2 separate regions of the Homo sapiens genome follow, and region 2 is linked to region 1. Evidence: fine-mapped expression QTL. A gene starts in region 1. The other region holds a variant in brackets. All regions are shown on one strand. Distances are between the middles of the regions. Region 1 holds the start of KANSL3 (KAT8 regulatory NSL complex subunit 3). Region 2 holds the start of MIR3127 (microRNA 3127).

Region 1 (4,383 bases):
CCAAAATGACAAAAAAAAATTTTTTTTAAAAAACCCTCAGTCTTGTTAATAATCAAAGAAATACAATGAAATACAATTTATGACTTTGCCAAATTGGTTTCAAAAGCCAAAAAAGATGTAAAAAAAAAAAATCAAACTCACTGGGCACGGTGGCTCACGCCTGTAATCCCAGCACTTTGGGAGGCCAAGGCGGGCGGATCACGAGGTCAGGAGATCGAGACCATCCGGGCTAACACAGTGAAACCCCGTCTCTACTAAAAATACAAAAAATTATCCGAGCATGGTGGCACACGCCTGTGGTCTCAGCTACTCGGGAGGCTGAGGCAGGAGAATCGCTTGAACCAGGGAGGTGGAGGTTGCAGTGAGCCGAGATCACGCTACTGCACTCCAGCCTGGGCGACAGAGAGAGACTCTGTCTCAAAAAAACAAAAACAAAACAAAACAAAAAACTCATTAATAAGCAAATAAATGGGATAAGATACCATTTATCACCTCTTAAATTGGCAAAGAATGAAACAAAATGATAAACGTGGTGTGCTGAGGAAAGGAAGGGGCAGAGAAAAGATACAAATCTGTTTTTAGTGGGAATGGGAATATAAGTAGAGAAATAGCAGAACCCTGGCCCCAAACAAGCGCCCAGGAGACAAAGTTAAGGGTAGGGAGAGGTGGGGCAGGGGCTGCTCTATTTGTGATAATTTCTATGGCCTTAAGCTCCATATTTCTAAACAGCACTTTTAAATAGCATTCCTTGATTTTTTCAAATCTATGAGGCATTTTCCCAGTTTTATTGTTTTCCCCGGGGCTCTCCCTCCTGGTCTTCTCTTCTCCCCCAGCTGAGACTAGTGGTCCCCAGTCCTGCAGCATAGCTATTGTCCTGGGATACTCTTTGCCATCACCTTCAGAATTCCTCGTCTGCTTCTTGTGTTAGACCCTGCTTCCCCGATCCTATGCCTTCCGTCTTCTCAGTTTACCCTCTCATCTTTGTGGAACACAGCTTTGAGTGGCTTTCTGAATGTTTCGAGTGTTTGCATGTCTGTACCTATCTTTTTTTTTTTTTTGAGACAGAGTCTTGCTGTGTCGCCCAGGCTGGAGTGCAATGGCGCGATTTTGGCTCACCGCAACCTCTGCCTCCTGAGTTTGAGAGATTCTCCCACCTCAGCCTCCCGAGTAGCCGGGATTACAGGCATGCGCCACCACACCTGGCTAATTTTTGTATTTTTAGTAGAGACAGGATTTCGCTATGTTGGCCAGGCTGGTTTTGTACTCCTGAACTCGTGATCCACCCTCCTCAGCCTCCCAAAGTGCTGGGATTACAGGCGTGAGCCACCGCACCCGGCCATTTCTTTTTTTAAATAGAAACGAAGTCTCACTGTTTTGTGCAGGCTAGTCTTGAACTCTTGGGCTCAAGCAATCTTCCCACCTTGGCCTCCCAAAGTACTGGGATTATAGGCATGAGCCACAGATCCCGGGTGAGATTTATCATCTTGAACCATGTCTCTTGCTGTCTTGTCTCATGTCTCTTGATGTCATGTTGTCAGTCAGTCAACCAAATAACCAATTATTGATCAGTCAACATTTGAACAATTACCTATGTTCTGGGTGTATGTTCTCTGGAGGATACAAAGGTTAATGTCCCTGATTTTGAGGATCTACTCTCTCTACACAAAACACATAGGAAAGTTAACCACACAAAACAATCTAGGGTCAGTAACAAAATTCTTTTTTTTTTTTTTTGAGACGTAGTCTCACTCCGTCGTCCAGGCTGGAGTGCAGTGGTGCAACCATGGCTCATTGCAGCCTGGACCTCCCAGACTCAAGTGATCCTCCCACCTCAGCCTCCCGGGTAGCTGGGACTACAGGCATACACCACTATCACACACACCTAATTTCTAAAATTTTTTGTAGATACGGGGGTCTCATCATATTGGCCAGGCTCATCTCAAACTCCTGAGCTCAAGAGGTCCTCCCGCCTAGGCCTCCCAAAGCGCTGGGATTACAGGCGTGAGCCACATTAGGTAAATTCTTAATGAGTAAATTCAGGTGGCTGCCCTGGTGGAGGTGGACCGTTGGGTGCTCGACCGCCCAGAGGGCACAAAGGACCAACACGGTGGGGGTGGCGAGAACTGGGGCCGTAGAAGCCAGCCTAGTCCTCCGCCCTCGCTTTCCCTACTGAATATGCGCGAGGGGGAAACTCCAGCCTAGTTGTTGACTTTCTGCTTCGGACATGCTCGCGTGTTCTTGGCTCTCCTCTTCCGGACAGAGGCGCCGGAGCTTCATCCGTTCCGGGCTTTGCCGCTCACCGCCTCTCCCTTCCCAGGCCGTAACCCGCTTCCGCGTTTTACTCGGTGCCCGCAGCGCCGGGGCGTGGAGGCGTTAACGCGCACGCGCTTAGGGATCCGGCCGTGGCCGAGCGCGCGGCCGTAAGACCGCGGGTGAGAGCAGCGTTGGCTTCGAGGGGAGTGGCGGGCCGTGGGGATCGCGGCCGTGGTTGGGACGGCCGGGGGTCTCGGCGAGGGCTTCAGGGCTCCCGGGGCATGCGGGGGCCCGGGCTAGGGCCGGCTGCCGGTGCTGGTCGGGCGGGGCGGGTCGGGCCGGGGGCGGGCTGGCAGGGGCCGCGTCTGGGCCTCCGTGACGCGGACGCCGAGCCCTGCCCCAGGGAGCGGGAGGCGGGAGGCGGGGGCCAGGCGGCTCCTCCTCGTCGCGAACTCTGGATGACCTTGGCCAAATCGCTTCAGTTCCCCGAGCTGGCGACTTCGTCTGTAAAATGCGAGTCATAGCCCTGTCTCCTAGATGGGCCGTGTGGAGGCTCAGTGGCGGGAACGCCTGCGGGGCAGCCGGGGTCCTGGGCGGTTTGCTAGGGACGCCTCACTGGGGGTGAGGGTGAAAGGGCTTCCACGGGGATCATTTTGTCACAGGCTTTGTTGGGGGGGCAGTTTTCATTTTTATGTAAACAACTCTGGAATATTACGAAGTACTTAACAGAACTTTTGTTTCGCACAATACGAGAGGCTTGAAGAAGTGGAGCCCTAGCTGGGATTCGCTTTTTTGAGGCCGGCGTTGCCCTGCCCTTTAGGGGTGCCCACGCTCTAGCTGCGGCCCCGGCTCCCTTCGCATTGTCGTTAGAGGATGGTGTGAAGCAACAGAGATCCTTAGCTTTCAACGAATTCATATTTGTGATTTCCTGTTTGTCAAAACCCTTCCTGCCCACCTAGGAAGTGGTGCTGGCCAAGCAAGTTTACTGTCTGTCCACGCGAGGTCTTTCTGAACCTTGGGGTCGGTGAGCTCTCCCGTTAGGTAATTTCAGTTCGCTAGAGGTTGAGTATGGGACAACTCGTGGCACCATAGTTTTTTTTTTCTTTTTTTTTGGTGTTGGTGTGGGATTCCACGAACCGTCCCCACCAGAGGTCTGCCGTGAAATGGATACTCAATAGGAATGATAGTAGGTTACAAAAGTAAGCATGTTAGATGGTGTAGATTGGGAGAAATTTAGGATATTGGAATTGACCTAAACTGAAACTTTTCACTGCAGGTGACTAGCATGCAGATACCCATGCTCTGACTTTCTGCCCCTCCACTGACATGGCCCACCGGGGTGGGGAGAGGGACTTCCAGACTTCAGCTCGACGCATGGGCACCTCGCTGCTCTTCCAGCTTTCAGTGCATGAACGGGAGCTGGACCTGGTTTTTCTGGATCATAGCTATGCCAAGCCTTGGAGTGCCCACCCAGATGCCAGTAGTGCCCGCCCCACCCGCATGCTCTTTGTCACTCCCCGGCGGCAGCACGAAAGTACCATGTGAGTTGGGGCTTCTAAGGGCTGCTGGTAACCTCACTGGGCAGTGATCAGATGGGAATTTAGAGAGGATTTTCTCAGGATTGACTGGGGGAGATTGTATGAGGCATTTGGATGTTAAATTCAGGCATCTCTTAAGCAGCATAAGGATAGCAGGCTTGAATGTGGCTATCTCTGTGAGACAGCTAACAAGAGTTAGGAAAGCAAGACGTGCAAATGAAAAGCAGACAACCTATTCCACTTAGATAGTAGGACGTGTGGAAAGGGGAAAATCGTAGAGGGTTATTTAACTGGTGAAGAAAAAGACTGAAAAGTTGATTTTAAAAGATTACCCACAGGATACGACTCTTTTATCACATTAGTCCAGTGCTCTGGGTTGCTTGACAGTGGCAACAATAGCCTTTTTATAGTAATGCATTTTGCTTTTCTTGGTTTCACACACGAAGGTTAGGAGCCAATTCCCAAGACGTTGCTTTTTCTCTTCCCTTGTTACAGAGCTGCTATCCATAGGTTAATCTAAACCCTTCTTATGTCTAATGATATTTTCACCCAGCCTATGTTATAGGGTAAGGAAGTTTCATAAATTGACTAC
Region 2 (4,383 bases), 160 kb before region 1:
AGCTGGCTATGAGCTCTCGGGCCCATGCTCAGTTCTGGTGTCGGTCCATGGCTCCCCAGCTGCAGGGGGGCCAAAGGGCAGCAAAGACCATGCCCAACAACTCACCGGAGGGGACCGAGGTCAGGGCCATAGTCCCATAGTAGGAGAAGGCGCCCGTCTCAAACTTCATGTTCTCCTTCCCTGCCTCCACCTCCACCTTCCCCTGAAAAAACACAGGGCTGGAGTTAGAGACCAAGTGAGGGAGGAAACAAAGGATGAGGCAGGATGGGGAGTGAGGAACAAGGGACAGTGGGGCAGGAGGAAGGGCCGGTACTGGAGCCCTGGAGAGCTCAGGGGCCTGACCTGTGAGATCAAGAGTGGCCTCTCAGGGAGAGGATGGCCACGTGGGGCAGGCGGGGCTCAAGGGCAGGCAGCAGGCTCCCCAGGCAGGGAAGCCATGCACCTCCGCAGCAGGTGGGAGAGAGGGCCTGGGGGTTGCTGCAGTGCCAGGGGGAGCAGGTGGCAGGCCCAGGGCTGAGCGGGCTCACCTGCAGGATGAGGATGAAGTAGTCGGCCGGCTTATTTCGGGTGTACAGGTAATGGCGGGCGTAGTACTTATTGTGCTCGTCAAACTTGAGTTCCTGAATGACATCTGGGTACTTGAGTAGCCGCAGCAGGATCTTCTCTGATATCAGGGAGGGGCTAAACTGAGAGACCTCTGTAGGAGGAGAGAGAAGAGACCTCACACGGGGCTGGCCAGGTGGCCCTAAAGCTCGATCACTGCTGTGCCTCCACCCCAACCACAGCAGCCACGCTGTGCTCAGACGACTCCCGCCCTGCTCGGCCGGCCCTCGTTCTGCACCTCCCTGGGGAGGGAGCACGCTTGGCTTCTGACTGGTTGGATACAAGGCTGCCTGCCTGCCTGGGCTTGAACAGTGGCTCCTGCAAGAACAGCACATGACCTTGGGCAAATTACTTAACCTGCATCTCAGTTTCCTCATCTGTAATATGGGGGTAAAAGCTTCACAGGGTGGTTGTGAGGGTGAATGGGATAGCACATGGACAGCACTTAGTATATATGTGCTGTCCATATATACTAAAATATATAGACTATAATTATTGCATCAGCATCAATATCCCACAGGAAAAATAATGGAGAGGGAATTGCCACCCCTTTAGCAAGTAAGGGGTGGGAAGGAAGATGAATTGGGCCAGGGGAAGAGGGGGACAGAGCGGGCAGAGCAGAACCTGTCACCCAAGTCCCCAGTGGAGCTTTGAATCAGGGCTGAAAAGAGAGAAATGTCTCTGAACTAGAAGTGAATTCCTGCGGGAACCAGCACACGTCTGCAAAGGGGAGAGCTGGAGAGTAAGAGCAGAGCTGGATGCAAGCTCCTCAGAGTGGGTGAGCACACGAGGGGTCCAGCCACACCCAGCAGGCCTGCAGAAGGGGAAGCGTCCCTTCTCCTTCCCATTCCACAAGCCCTGATGGGCCTGGCCAGCCTAGGGGCCCACCTCAGTGGTTATTTTCTTTTTTGTTATTTTTGAGACAGAATCTTGTTCTGTGGCCCAGGCTGAGTGCAGTGGTGCATTCACAACTTACTGCAGCTTCAAACTCCTGGGCTCAAGCGGTCCTCCCACATCAGCCTCCTGAGTAGCTGGGACCACAGACATGCAACTGTCCCACCTCATAGCCTCCCAAGTAGCTGGGACTACAGGAGGGCACCACCATGCCTGGCTTTTGTATTTTTTGTAGAGATGGGGTCTCGCCATGTTGCTCAGGCTGGTCTCGAACTCCTGGGCTCATGCAATCCTCCTGCCTCGGCCTCCCAAAGTGCTGGGATTACAGGTATAAGCCATAGTGCCTAGTCATTATTTCCCAAACTATTAAATATAGTAACTTGGATGCTTCCTAGAAGTTTGCAGTAGCCGCCCATTAATGGCAAATGAATCGCAGGGAGATCCCCAGGGGTGGAGCAGATACCCGGCCCCTTCCAGGGGTGGCTGTGTTGTCTCTGCACCCCTCACCTGCTGCAGCCCTCGTCCTATGGGGGGAAAGCAGCCGGAAACCCAGGACTTCTCCCCCGTGACCGTATTTCCACCAAGACCGGAAGGTCCTCCTCATGCTACCTGTGGCTAGGAAGCGATGAGCGGCCAGGAGGAGCTGCGGGGAGATTTTCACTTTGAGCTCATTGTCCGCATCCTTGAAGGCAGAGAAGTCACGCTTGTTCTTCTCAGACACCCGCTTCCGGCTTCGGTTGTCAGCTGCCGGAAGAAGAGCGTGGAATTGAGAACACAGACCCCTGAGGACTTAGGAAGAGACTGGAACCCGCCCCGCAGCTCCTGCTCTCCAGCCCCTAGTCCCACGCAGGAGCAGCAGGCTCTGGCTGGCAGGGTCCTGGGCTGACGCCGAGGCACA[A/G]AGGCCGAGGGTGAAGGCAGCCTCCGGGCACTGCTCTCAGCAACCTGCTCCCTGCTCACCCCGGCCAGTGCAGGGCACCCAGCCACTGGGCCTCTGGATGCTAGGCCTCCTGTGTCCCTGCACTATGGCCCTTCCAGCTAGGGACACCAAGTTTCGATCCAAGCAGGAAAGGGGTCCTGGGCCCTGTGGAAGGCTGGACTCACTGTACATGTCGGACTCGTCCAGGATCTCCGACTTGATGATCTCCTCGATCACGTCCTCCAGGGTGACCAGGCCCAGGACCTCGTAGAAGGGGTCACCCTCACCCTCGTTGTTTACCTTCTGCACGATGGCCAGGTGGGACTTCCCTGTGGGACAATGCAGCAAGTCAGACAAGAGCCCAGAGGCCAGTCATGAGACTCCCTCAACCAAAACATTAACTCTAGACGTAGGGTCATAAGTCACCAGGATGGGGTCATGGTGGTTTTTATCTTTTCCATCTTTCCTGACGTTTCTACTGCAAACAGACATTGCTTTTATGAAAAGGAAAACTAAAAGTAATTTTTAAAAGCATGTCGTTAAGGACCACTTTTTTGTTTTTCTCTGTTTTTGTGGAGGAAGGACAGGGTCTAGCTCTGTTACCCAGGCTGGAGTGCAGTGGCGCAATCATAGCTCACTGCAGCCGCCAACTTCTGGGCTCAAGAGATCCTCCCACCTCAGCCTCCCGAGTAGCTGAGACCACAGGTGTGCTCCACCATGCCTGGCTAACTCTTTTATTTTTTGTAGAGATGGATCTCGCTATGTTGCTCAAGCTGGTCTCAAACTCCTGGGCTCAAGCAGTCCTCCCATCTCAGCCTCCCAAAGTGCTGGGAATACAGGAATGAGCCACCACGCCAGGCCAGGACTACTTGTTTAAATCGGATAAAAATGGCAATGCTGGGAGCAATGGCTCACATCTGTAATCCCAGCACCTTGGACGGGCTGAAGCGGGCAGATTGCTTGAGGCCAGGAGTTTGAGACCAGCCTGGCCAACACGGTAAAACCCCATCTCTACTAAAAATACAAAAATCAGCTAGGTGTGGTAGTACACACCTGTAGTCCCAGCTACTCGGAAGGCTGAGGCAGGAGAATTGCTTGAACCCGGGAGGCAGAGGTTGCAGTGAGCCGAGATCACGCCACTGCACTCCAGCCTGGGCAACAGAGCAAGACTCTGTCTCAAAAAAAAAAAAAAAAAAAAAAAAAAAAAAAGACCCTGTCTGGTATCACTTATCAGGGGCTTCTGGAACTCTTGGGGAGGGGAAAGACCCAAACTGACAAGGGCACAGAGAGGCCGAGCACTGTGATTAGGTGGGGCAGAGACTACAATTAGAGAGGGGCCACCCCCTCAACCCAAAGTGAGGGAAGGAGGCTGGCATGGGGCAGGACCCTCCACAGAAACCCTGTGGGGTGGTGGGTCTTCCCAGACCCCTTTTTGAAGGCCACACCCTGTTCTTATGGCCCCAGCCCCATGAGTGGCAAGAGGGTCCAGCCAAGAAGGGCTAGGTCCACAGTCTAGGTGGAATGAGTCCTGTGTGCCATACCCCACTCGCAGGAACACAGGTTTGGAGCAGCCTAGGAAGAAAGGCCCCCGGAAATCTGGGAAGGTCAAGTCAGGGTCTTCTGCATGGCTTCCCCTTCACAATCCAAGGGCCTCGCTCTAGGGACTAAAGAACTCATCCTAAATACCCTCGGTGGAGGATGTTTTCCAGGTCTTTAAGGCCACAGAAAATCCCCCAGCCCAAGATGGGCTGTTAAGAACTTCTAAGGGCCTCTTAGGGAGAGCAGAGAGAATGTGAGGTCTCATGACTAAAGTAAAAATTCTCACAATACACCCCATGTGATGGGGGGGGGGGTACTGCATTGTGAAAGTTTTTCACACACATGCCAGGGGCTATGATATATGTATTTCCCACTACAGGTTCTGGTCAAAAAACATTTAGCGTCTTGCTAGACAAAGCCATGGCTGGACT

What was found. PIP is the estimated chance that this variant, and not a neighbour inherited with it, causes the effect. A credible set is the group of variants that fine-mapping cannot tell apart.
Region 2: its variant is the best candidate, but not a certain one, in a credible set for the expression of KANSL3 in whole blood (INTERVAL, PIP 0.66).

The regions. Positions count from the first base shown.
Region 1 is chr2:96,636,332-96,640,714 of GRCh38, reverse strand. KANSL3 (KAT8 regulatory NSL complex subunit 3) reads left to right here and starts at 2,403. Exons shown (of 21, transcript NM_001115016.3): 1 at 2,403-2,432; 2 at 3,530-3,794. The coding sequence starts at 3,580. RefSeq lists a silencer at 2,474-2,683.
Region 2 is chr2:96,795,371-96,799,753 of GRCh38, reverse strand. It overlaps CNNM4 (cyclin and CBS domain divalent metal cation transport mediator 4), which reads right to left. Exons shown (of 7, transcript NM_020184.4): 2 at 2,599-2,742; 3 at 2,107-2,241; 4 at 528-697; 5 at 106-202. It overlaps MIR3127 (microRNA 3127), which reads right to left and starts at 1,476; the gene lies at 1,401-1,476. The variant A/G (reference allele first, on the strand shown) is at 2,396.